Linked DNA regions of Homo sapiens: region 2 is reported to be linked to region 1. Evidence: microRNA targets listed by miRTarBase, many of them from high-throughput screens and not tested one by one. Region 1 holds a microRNA gene; the other region holds the end of a gene's coding sequence.

Region 1 (4,490 bases):
GTTATAAGTGTGTAGGGGAACAAACAAACAAAAATAGTAAAATATTTTAGGACACAGTAATTTGAAACATTAGAAACAATGCAACATTTTAAGTGTTTTCTTTCTTTGTGAAAATAAACTTACTAACAGGTTTTTTAAAAGTGCTTGCCTTCTTCTCTTTGCATAACTTACGATACTGAGGGAACATCTTTTCTATGCCAGTGAATTGCCATAGTCCTTTATAAATTTGCATCAGCTTGCAACATCTTATCTCTTTGCTTTCAGTGTTGTGAAATACCTCTGGAAGTTCCTATAATGTGAAGTTTTTTGCTGGGATCACTTCCTGTGGGACATCTTCATCCTTTTTGTTGCAACCACTTTCCTCATTTATGCTTTGAACAATGGTTTCAGGTTTCATCAATATAAATCGAAACTTCAAGGGTCCCAACTGTCAGAAAGTCACATAGAACTTACTCAGAATGATGTCAAATTCCACTCTAGAAATTTAAAACCTCACCCTGTTAAAAATAGCTTGTCATCAACAAAGGAACCAGATGATAACAGACACAAGGCTGACTTTTTAGTTTCGACTTATATATATTAAAAAAAAAACAACCACAAAACTGCTCAACATAAGCACAATGTGCTTTCAGGAGAGAATCTCAAAGGACCTTTCCAGTGCATTTTCAGTGCCCTGCACCCAAGCATTAATGATTATTTAAATGGTAGAATAACATAAAATGATGAAACAACTGGATAAATTCAACTATGTTGTAAAAATTTTGTAGTTGACAGAAATCAGTCTTTGGACTTTAAGATCTCATATAGATCAGAGGAGAAATATAATGACATACTCCTTAAGAATCTGATGAAAGTTATGGCCTTTCTCCACTAGAATGTGCCGATTACAATATTTTATGCAGTGTTTCAAGGAATACACAGAGCCCCCAATATCCAGTTAGAAGCCCTGGCTGTGAATCTAGAATTTTATTACAGGTGAAACCCAGCACAAGTCTGATTGAGAGCCATTGCAAGTCACAGAAACTCTAGGCCCTGTCTAAGTAAAGGCAAACCTTGGAGTATGTCATCTGCCACTGAAAATGCATTTAATGATGACTCACTCTTTCCTCACTATACAAGTTTGTTCAACCTACACCTCTTCAGCTACAGACTACCTACCATCCCTGAAACTCTGTTCTGAGAGTAAAGGGATTACAAAACCTGGCTGAAAAGACAGATTCAATGGCATGTTGAAAAACACAGCAGAACCAGCACATCAGACTGTAAATTGATTGTCTTGCACAGGATGTTAGCTGCTCTTCGAATGAGGTTCCTGAGTGGCACCTGAGCCTATTGCTGGTGGCATCCTATTCTGCCTGTTCTCTCTTTCTTCCTCCTTCCCCATTCCTTTCATTCTCTTCTCCCTTATTCTTCCTCTGCAATTCTTTTTTTCCACACTACCGTTGGCCGGTCCCTAGGGATACTGTTTAATCTGGCCCATGGTACAAGAGATTTTAGATCTTCATTGAAGTCACTAGAGATGGCCTGAGTGAGTCACTTTGAATTCAATAGACAAACTGATGGAAGGCTCTGAGAAGACCTCAACGATGCCCAAGAAATGTGTTCTTACTGTAGAAACTTACTATTTTGATCAAAAAAGTCATTTTGGTCAAAAAGGGGAGTTGGGAGATTGCCTTTTTGTTTTGAAATTGATTTGGCTTCAAGGGAAGAAGATTGCCTAAACAAAACCTGCTGATGAAGTCACAAAATGACTCCACCTCTGGAATGAGCTTTATTTTCTTATAATTTGGCAAGAAATTTGGCTTTCAATTGGGAATGCACGTCACTCTACCCACTCAAGGGCAAGATGATAAGGTTCTATCAGACCAAGCGTCTAAAGGAACCTGAGACTCTACCAAGGTCAGAAATGCTGCAATTCAAGCCAAAAGATCTTTCTTGGGCTTCCTTGTTTTGACTTGTAACCATAAATTAGTCTTGCCTAAATGTCTGATCACATTATAAAACAGTAAGTGAATCTGTACTGTACAGCACCCTCTGAAGCAACAGGAGCTATAGATGAACCTTTTAGGGGATTCTGTAATTTTTCTGTCCCTTTGATTTCCACAGGACTCTAAATTGCCCCCTCTGAGGTCAAGGAACACAAGATGGTTTTGGAAATGCTGAACCCGATACATTATAACATCACCAGCATCGTGCCTGAAGCCATGCCTGCTGCCACCATGCCAGTCCTGCTCCTCACTGGCCTTTTTCTCTTGGTGTGGAATTATGAGGGCACATCCTCAATACCAGGTAAGTCAGTCATTTATTTCTGTATCTAAGGAGATTATTTACTTGGGATTTTGGTCCATGATGGTAAAGAAAATTTTGCAAAAGGACAAAAAGCAAACCTGGAAAGATCTCTGAAGACTATGTCTGTGTTAGCAAATGAGGACTTGGGAGAAAATTTTCAGACCAATTATCTGCACATTTTAAATGAAAGCACTTAAAAAATATCTTAGATAAACCCTTCCACTCTGTGCTGTGCTTTCGTAAAGTAGACTTGGCACAAGTACCCTTTAAAACAAGCTCAAGATGGGGTGGAGTAAAGTAAAATTCCAGGGTTTTCTGGTTAACTTTTAAAAAATAGATTGCAATTTTGCTCTGAAGGTGAAAATGTCTCTGGAACATCTTCTTCACTGCTTTTCTTCTCCCTTTCACTTTGTTTCCGCCATGCCCCCTCTTTGTCTTGTATTTATCCCTTCTCTTTATTCCACTCATCATTTTCTCTTATTCTTGGGAATGTGGTGATAGTGGTCCCCATTTTTCTCCCACTGTCTGGATCCCATTCGACCCTTATGGGAGCCTGGTAGTGGGAGAAAAATGGGGACCACTCCAGTGCTCTTGGAACATCATACCCCGGGAGAATCTTCAACAAGATCTGTGGTTCAATCAAAAGCAGAGAATAATATAATTATTCAGATAATCCCAATAGAAAACCCCACCCTTCCACCCTTAAAGCCGCAATGATCAGATATCAGATTAATTCAGAATGACTTGAAATTTCAGACTGCTTCTTTAGGTTTCAGTGAAAATGCTTCATTGCAGACACATCTGTTCCCAATTCCATAAGATATCCAATGAGACTTTAAGAGCATAGTTACACACTGGTAAGTGTGGTGGGCCTAGTCTCAGTGGGATCAGAAGTGGGAGCATGGGGCTAGCACAAAATGCTCTGTGTCTGGATTCTTTTTAACATTCCAGATAATTGCCTGTCTCTCTGCCTGATTCAGCCTGATATTTTAGATTACTTTAATGCCCAGTTTAAAGGAACATTTAGTTAATTTTGTTCTCTGCTCCCTGACAGGGTCAACTCTAGAGAAGGGAGGCTCAGAGCTAAGGGACAACTGTTTCATGGTCTTTAACTTGAACTCTGTTCCCCAGTGTGGCCCTTCCTCACTGGATTTCTCCTCTCCCAAGGGGGCTTCTAGGTCAGGGTCAGTGAATGGTCGGGGTGGGGTGAGTAAGTGGTGGGGGTGGAGAGCCTTTTTTTCCTCTTCTTCCCTTCATAGGCTCAGGTGCTAAATTCCAATTTGTCTGTGTTAGCAGACAATCAGGCCAGGAGAGTCCAGCATTGCCCACGCAGCATTGCCCATCCAGTGAGCCACAGGTTCTCAAGCTTTTAAGTCTATGTAAGAACACCCAGCAGGTAGGAGCTTGTTAACATTTCTGTTCCTGGACCCTGCTCCTGACTTTTTGACTCAGACTCTTCAGGCCTAGAAACATGCATTTTTAAAAAGTCCCCGCAGATGCTTATGTTAATCAGCACTGGTGGAATTTCCTTGGACCCTTGACCAAGGAGGTCAGCCTGTTAGGACAAGCCTGAGAACCAGCAGCCCTGAAGCTCTGGATCAGTGGGAGAGTAGGCAGCACCTCACTCTGTCCACCATTTCTGGGCCAGGGCCATCATGCTGATCCACTGACAGTCAGATCAAGTAGCACAGTGATTCTCAGCACTGTCTGAGGTAGGAGCTCAGCTAGTTTGGGGTTGCTATTTTTAAAAAAATCTCCCTTCCTGATTTTTTATGAGCAGCCAAGGTTGAGAGCCACAAATATGAGCCTAACTCCTTCATTTGACAGAAGGGGAAACTGAGACCCAGGGAGTTGATCTGCCTTGCCCAGACAAAACACTATGACAAGCATGAGAAGCCATGGAGTTCAAACTTGTCGTTTTACAAGTGAATGGTTAAAGCCCAGTGAAGGGAAATGGCTTGTCATCTCCCCAGCTGGACAGAAAGTGGGAATGTAGGGGGACCACCAGGAAGTCCTAAAGCCCAGGTTGATGATCATTTTGCTAGACAGGTAGTTTCTAGTTTCACACTTTCCTTTTGAAAACAGAAGGTCTAGTTAGAATCCACTAGTAGCACAGACTGTGAGATCCTATGGTTTCTGGTTGGGGGAGGGAAGATAAGAAAATTGGCCTTGTTTGGGGTGGCTTTTGCTGATCAATACTC
Region 2 (4,000 bases), not on the chromosome of region 1:
AAATTTTGGCCTATTTATGTAACAGTCATGCACCAAGGAAAACAAAACAAAACAAAATGCCTGGGGATAAATGGGTTTGAAAATCATTGCCACAGACTTTAGACCTAAAAAGGATCACTGGGATCACCAAGTGAGAAAACTGAGGCTTAGGGAAGTGAGATGCCTTGTCCACGATGTACTTAGGGAAGCTGCCATGTCCAAATGGCATGTGACTCATTGAGAGACCACAACAGGAACCCAAGAGCTGCCTCAGTGACACATGGAGCTCAAAAAAAAAGAGAAGTTAAAGGGAAGAAGAAAGGAACTTTGTCTTGTGGGACAAAACACATGCTGAAGTGATGGGGCACCATGGTCCCATCAGATGCGTTGGAGTTTGCCTTCTGTTCCAATCATAAAGCCCCATCTGCACAGTGGCAAGCCCTTTCCAAGGGTTAGTCCCCATGTGTTTGAGGTTTCCAGGCAAGAGCCACATCGAGCCTCCATAAGCAGGCACTGTGAACCCTCAAGACTGAACAGAAAAGGACCACATCCCCTGTTCCTACTCCTGGCCCAATGCTAAACTTCAGTAGGCTATTCCCCTAATTCTGGAGCAGATAGGAAAGGCAGATGGAAGAGAATGTACACTCCTTCGTAGTTCATCTGGACAGTAATCAGGAGCTGACCCAGGGTGGGCGTTTGGAAGGACTCAGCCTCCGTCCTGCCTGGTGCTGGGATCAGCTTACACAGCTCCTGTGTCCACAGGGCACAGAGAATACATTGTCCATAAGGAGGATTATTCTGTACAAGAAGCTCAGACAAAGGGAGAGGTTGTTTCCAGCTGCCTGGGGGAGGTGAGAGGGGGGTGGGAAAAGGGACCAGCCTTGCACTGGGGCATTCCTGCAGAGTTCAGCTTCTTCTCTGTGGCAGCACAACAGGAGGTGGGCAATTACACCCCCTCCAGCTCAATCCTAATGCTGGGACCCATTATGGAGTTCTAAGGAGCACTTGGCTACAACCTATCTATCTTGGCTGTTTCCCAAAAAACGACAGGGTTGAATGAGGTACACCAGCTAAGTAGGGCAGCAATAAACACCAGAAGGGGAACAGAATGGGGTGACTGGCACAATGAGCAAAAGAGAGGTTCAGCAATGACTGAATCCCAGGCTCAGGGCAGAGCTGGAGAGGGAGAGATCCTAGGCAATGGGCCTTATGCTGACATTGATTGGATAAGCTTCCGCCTTCAGCAGGATGAACTCTGTCCTGTAGTAAGCTCTTGACGTTTCACAGCTGCTGCTTCTTTCTCCATCCTAGACACAAACCTAGGAGACAATGGCCTAATCTCTTTCTCCAGGGGACCCAAGAATAGGAGAAAGCACGATCTCCAAGCAAAACAGGACAGTCAAAAACAGAGGAATGTTACCAGAGTAGGCCAATAGTCACCTTTTGCAAATCCTAAATCTGAGCCAGTAAATAGGTCATGTCCCCTTCTTCAAAGGAAAACTGTATATGTATTCCCTCCTGAGGGAATGAGTATGTTAGGGGTGGGAGATACATACTCTCTATTGAGGCATTTAATAGGCTGTATGGACCCCAAAGTGGGAGACACTACTGAGATTTGTGTACTCCAGATGATTTGAGGATGGGGGATAAAAACGACAGCATGTGCTCCTACGGTGATGAATGTAGAGGAGTCCCTCTAGAGGAAGGAGTGTTTGCTTAGGGGAACAAGATGTAGGTGACATCCTGCATATGTTCCTGTTGGGGCAAGAGGATATTTCCATTCTTGGATGACAAGGAATCCATTTTAATAGTATGGTGGGGATGAAGTCAGTATTTGCCTGGGACACAAAAAAACTTGGGGTTGGTGCCATTCAATAGGAGGGAATCTTTTGGTGGAGTAAAGGACAATAGTCACCAAAAGATGCTCCAGGAATTTCAGAGAAGCACAGCTCAAACTCTACCCAATATGCCAGTTAATACTGACATTTCCAGTGGGAAGGGAAGAGGTGAGAAGATAACACCTGAGTGGGCTGATGAGCCGGAACAGTTTAAGTGGGGGAAAGGTCTGGCATTGCCTTAGAGCTGGTGACCAGACTCCCCTACTGCTATGTATTGTGGTCAGTGAGCTTTGTGGATACCATTCCTCACCTTGATGGAATGGTAACAGATGTGACATCTGGGACCACTTTTCCAGTCCTTTGCTGCCACAGCCTGGCAGAACTTTGTTTGGCACTGAACAAATGCCAAAGTACCAGTGTGTGACAGAACAGAAAAAAGGCAGCTGGAAGGTATGAGCAGGAGGGAAGTTTCAGGATTTTTAGATCAAAGCTAATTAAAGATACGGAAACTTTTTTATGGAGAACAAATTAGAACTGCCTTGCAGCACTCTTGAAACTGCCCCTCTGATCCCTATGTAGTGCTCTCATAAATTACTGTCAGACAACCCTGAGCCAGTGAACATCAATTTAAATAACTTTATTCAGAGGAATCCTTTGGTCCACTTCTGCTGACTCAACCCCTGCCCATGCCAACAAAGGAGTACTAAGAAAGGCAGGTTAGCCTGAATGTCTAAATTCAATTTGTTCAACTTTATAAAAGCAGGCAAAGCTACTGGGGGTTGCCCCCTCCCACCATCATTCTGGTCCACCATTTGGGCCACAGGCTTAGGGAAATGAAGGAAAGTCGTTTTCTTTGAAGGAAATCCTGGCCAAAGTCGAGAAAGTGGGCACCATTATGAGGTCAACTAAACCCTGATGGCAGTGTGAAGTGCAATTCCCTTCTCCCTCCAAAATAAGAAACATGAATCCAGGGGAAGGGGCTTTTTCGTGTGCTAAGGAAAAACCCTTTCCCACATAGTCCTGCCTGGCAGAGCCACTTCCTGAGAAAGCCTCGTGTGTATAAGGTGGGGTAAAGGATAGGGGACTTTATGACTATTTGACAGGTAAAAGCCAAGTTGGCTCCTTAGAGGATGGAAAGGAGAGCAGGCCCAAGCTTCACCAGAGCTGCAGGTGGGCATTTTTTTTTCCTTCCTGGCCCAGAAGCTTCTTCACCTTGCGCCTTAGAGGGATAGCCAGAATGAAACCCAGGCAGGAGGGCCTGCAAAAACAGTGTGCCTCTAAGAACACAGAGGTTGCTACAGTTTCTGGCAGCACAAAATAAGCATAGCCTTATTTGATCTTGTGTCCATCAGCTCACCATTGACGTGAGGCAGTATCAGATTAGGGTAAGTTCTGGATCAAGGACTGTGGAGGGTGGTGGGGAGAAGGATCTGTAGAAACTATCATTTATTGAATACCCATTATTTCATATACTGTACTAAGTGCTTTACATTCATTTCCTCATTTTAATCCTCACAACAACCCTATGAGGTAGGTATTATCACCATTTACAAATGAGAAACAGGCTCAGAAAAATTAGGTCACTTGTCCAAGGTCACACAGCTAGTCAGTGGTGGAAGTGGGATTTGTCTGCTGCTGAAAGCCCATGTTCTTTTTATTGTACCCATCTAGGTGAGCCTTGAGCAAAAGGTAATTTCACTGCCCAACTCTGCAAAGAGCACCAGGGAGTCGAGGTTGCCAGCCACACTCACCGCTGGTAGGGATGCATGGAAGCCGACTTGATGTTGGTTTTTATTCCACTTGGCATTTTCCCTGAAAGGAACATTAAAAAAGTCATCTTAAGCAAGGTAAGACTTTCATGACAAATCAGAAATGTGGTACCTCAGGTTCCCTCTGTCACTTCCTTTATCATCTCAGAACCTCTGCGGCATCTGACCCTGTTTGACAGAGGTCAGAAGTATGATTCTTCACCCAGCTGTCTCCCTGAAGGTGTCCAGGAGGAAAGAAGTGACATGGGAGAATAGTCTGTTCATCCACTCCTAGAACAGATAGCTAAACCTGTGTGACTCCCATTTAACGTCACAGGTAAAAGAGTACTATGTTCTCTCATTGTTTTTCTTTTTTTATATCATAATAAGTGCAGAATCTCTCTTTAATTGTCCCTTTTCCTAGACAGCTTGGAG

Evidence for each region. The annotated mature microRNA hsa-miR-4713-5p reads UUCUCCCACUACCAGGCUCCCA and lies in region 1 at 2,836-2,857, opposite strand. An mRNA with a match to its seed (bases 2 to 7 or 8) in the 3' UTR can be bound and repressed. Matches are read on the target gene's strand: a 7mer-m8 pairs with bases 2 to 8, a 7mer-A1 pairs with bases 2 to 7 and ends in A, and an 8mer does both.
Region 2: miRTarBase lists MED8 as a target of hsa-miR-4713-5p. Seed matches in the 3' UTR shown: 7mer-A1 at 2,757-2,763.

The regions. Positions count from the first base shown.
Region 1 is chr15:51,240,567-51,245,056 of GRCh38, reverse strand. It overlaps MIR4713 (microRNA 4713), which reads right to left and starts at 2,867; the gene lies at 2,793-2,867. CYP19A1 (cytochrome P450 family 19 subfamily A member 1) reads left to right here. Exons shown (of 10, transcript NM_000103.4): 2 at 2,107-2,289. The coding sequence starts at 2,145. All of the region lies in intron 1 of MIR4713HG (MIR4713 host gene), which reads right to left. RefSeq lists cis regulatory regions at 1,093-1,099, 1,758-1,779, promoters at 1,007-1,163, 1,777-1,806, 1,750-2,011, 1,152-2,129, 1,932-2,189 and silencers at 1,840-1,867, 1,895-1,924, 1,770-1,931.
Region 2 is chr1:43,381,478-43,385,477 of GRCh38, forward strand. It overlaps MED8 (mediator complex subunit 8), which reads right to left. Exons shown (of 7, transcript NM_201542.5): 7 at 2,440-3,629. The coding sequence ends at 3,565. It overlaps MED8-AS1 (MED8 antisense RNA 1), which reads left to right and starts at 3,572. Exons shown (of 2, transcript XR_001738027.1): 1 at 3,572-3,664; 2 at 3,807-4,000.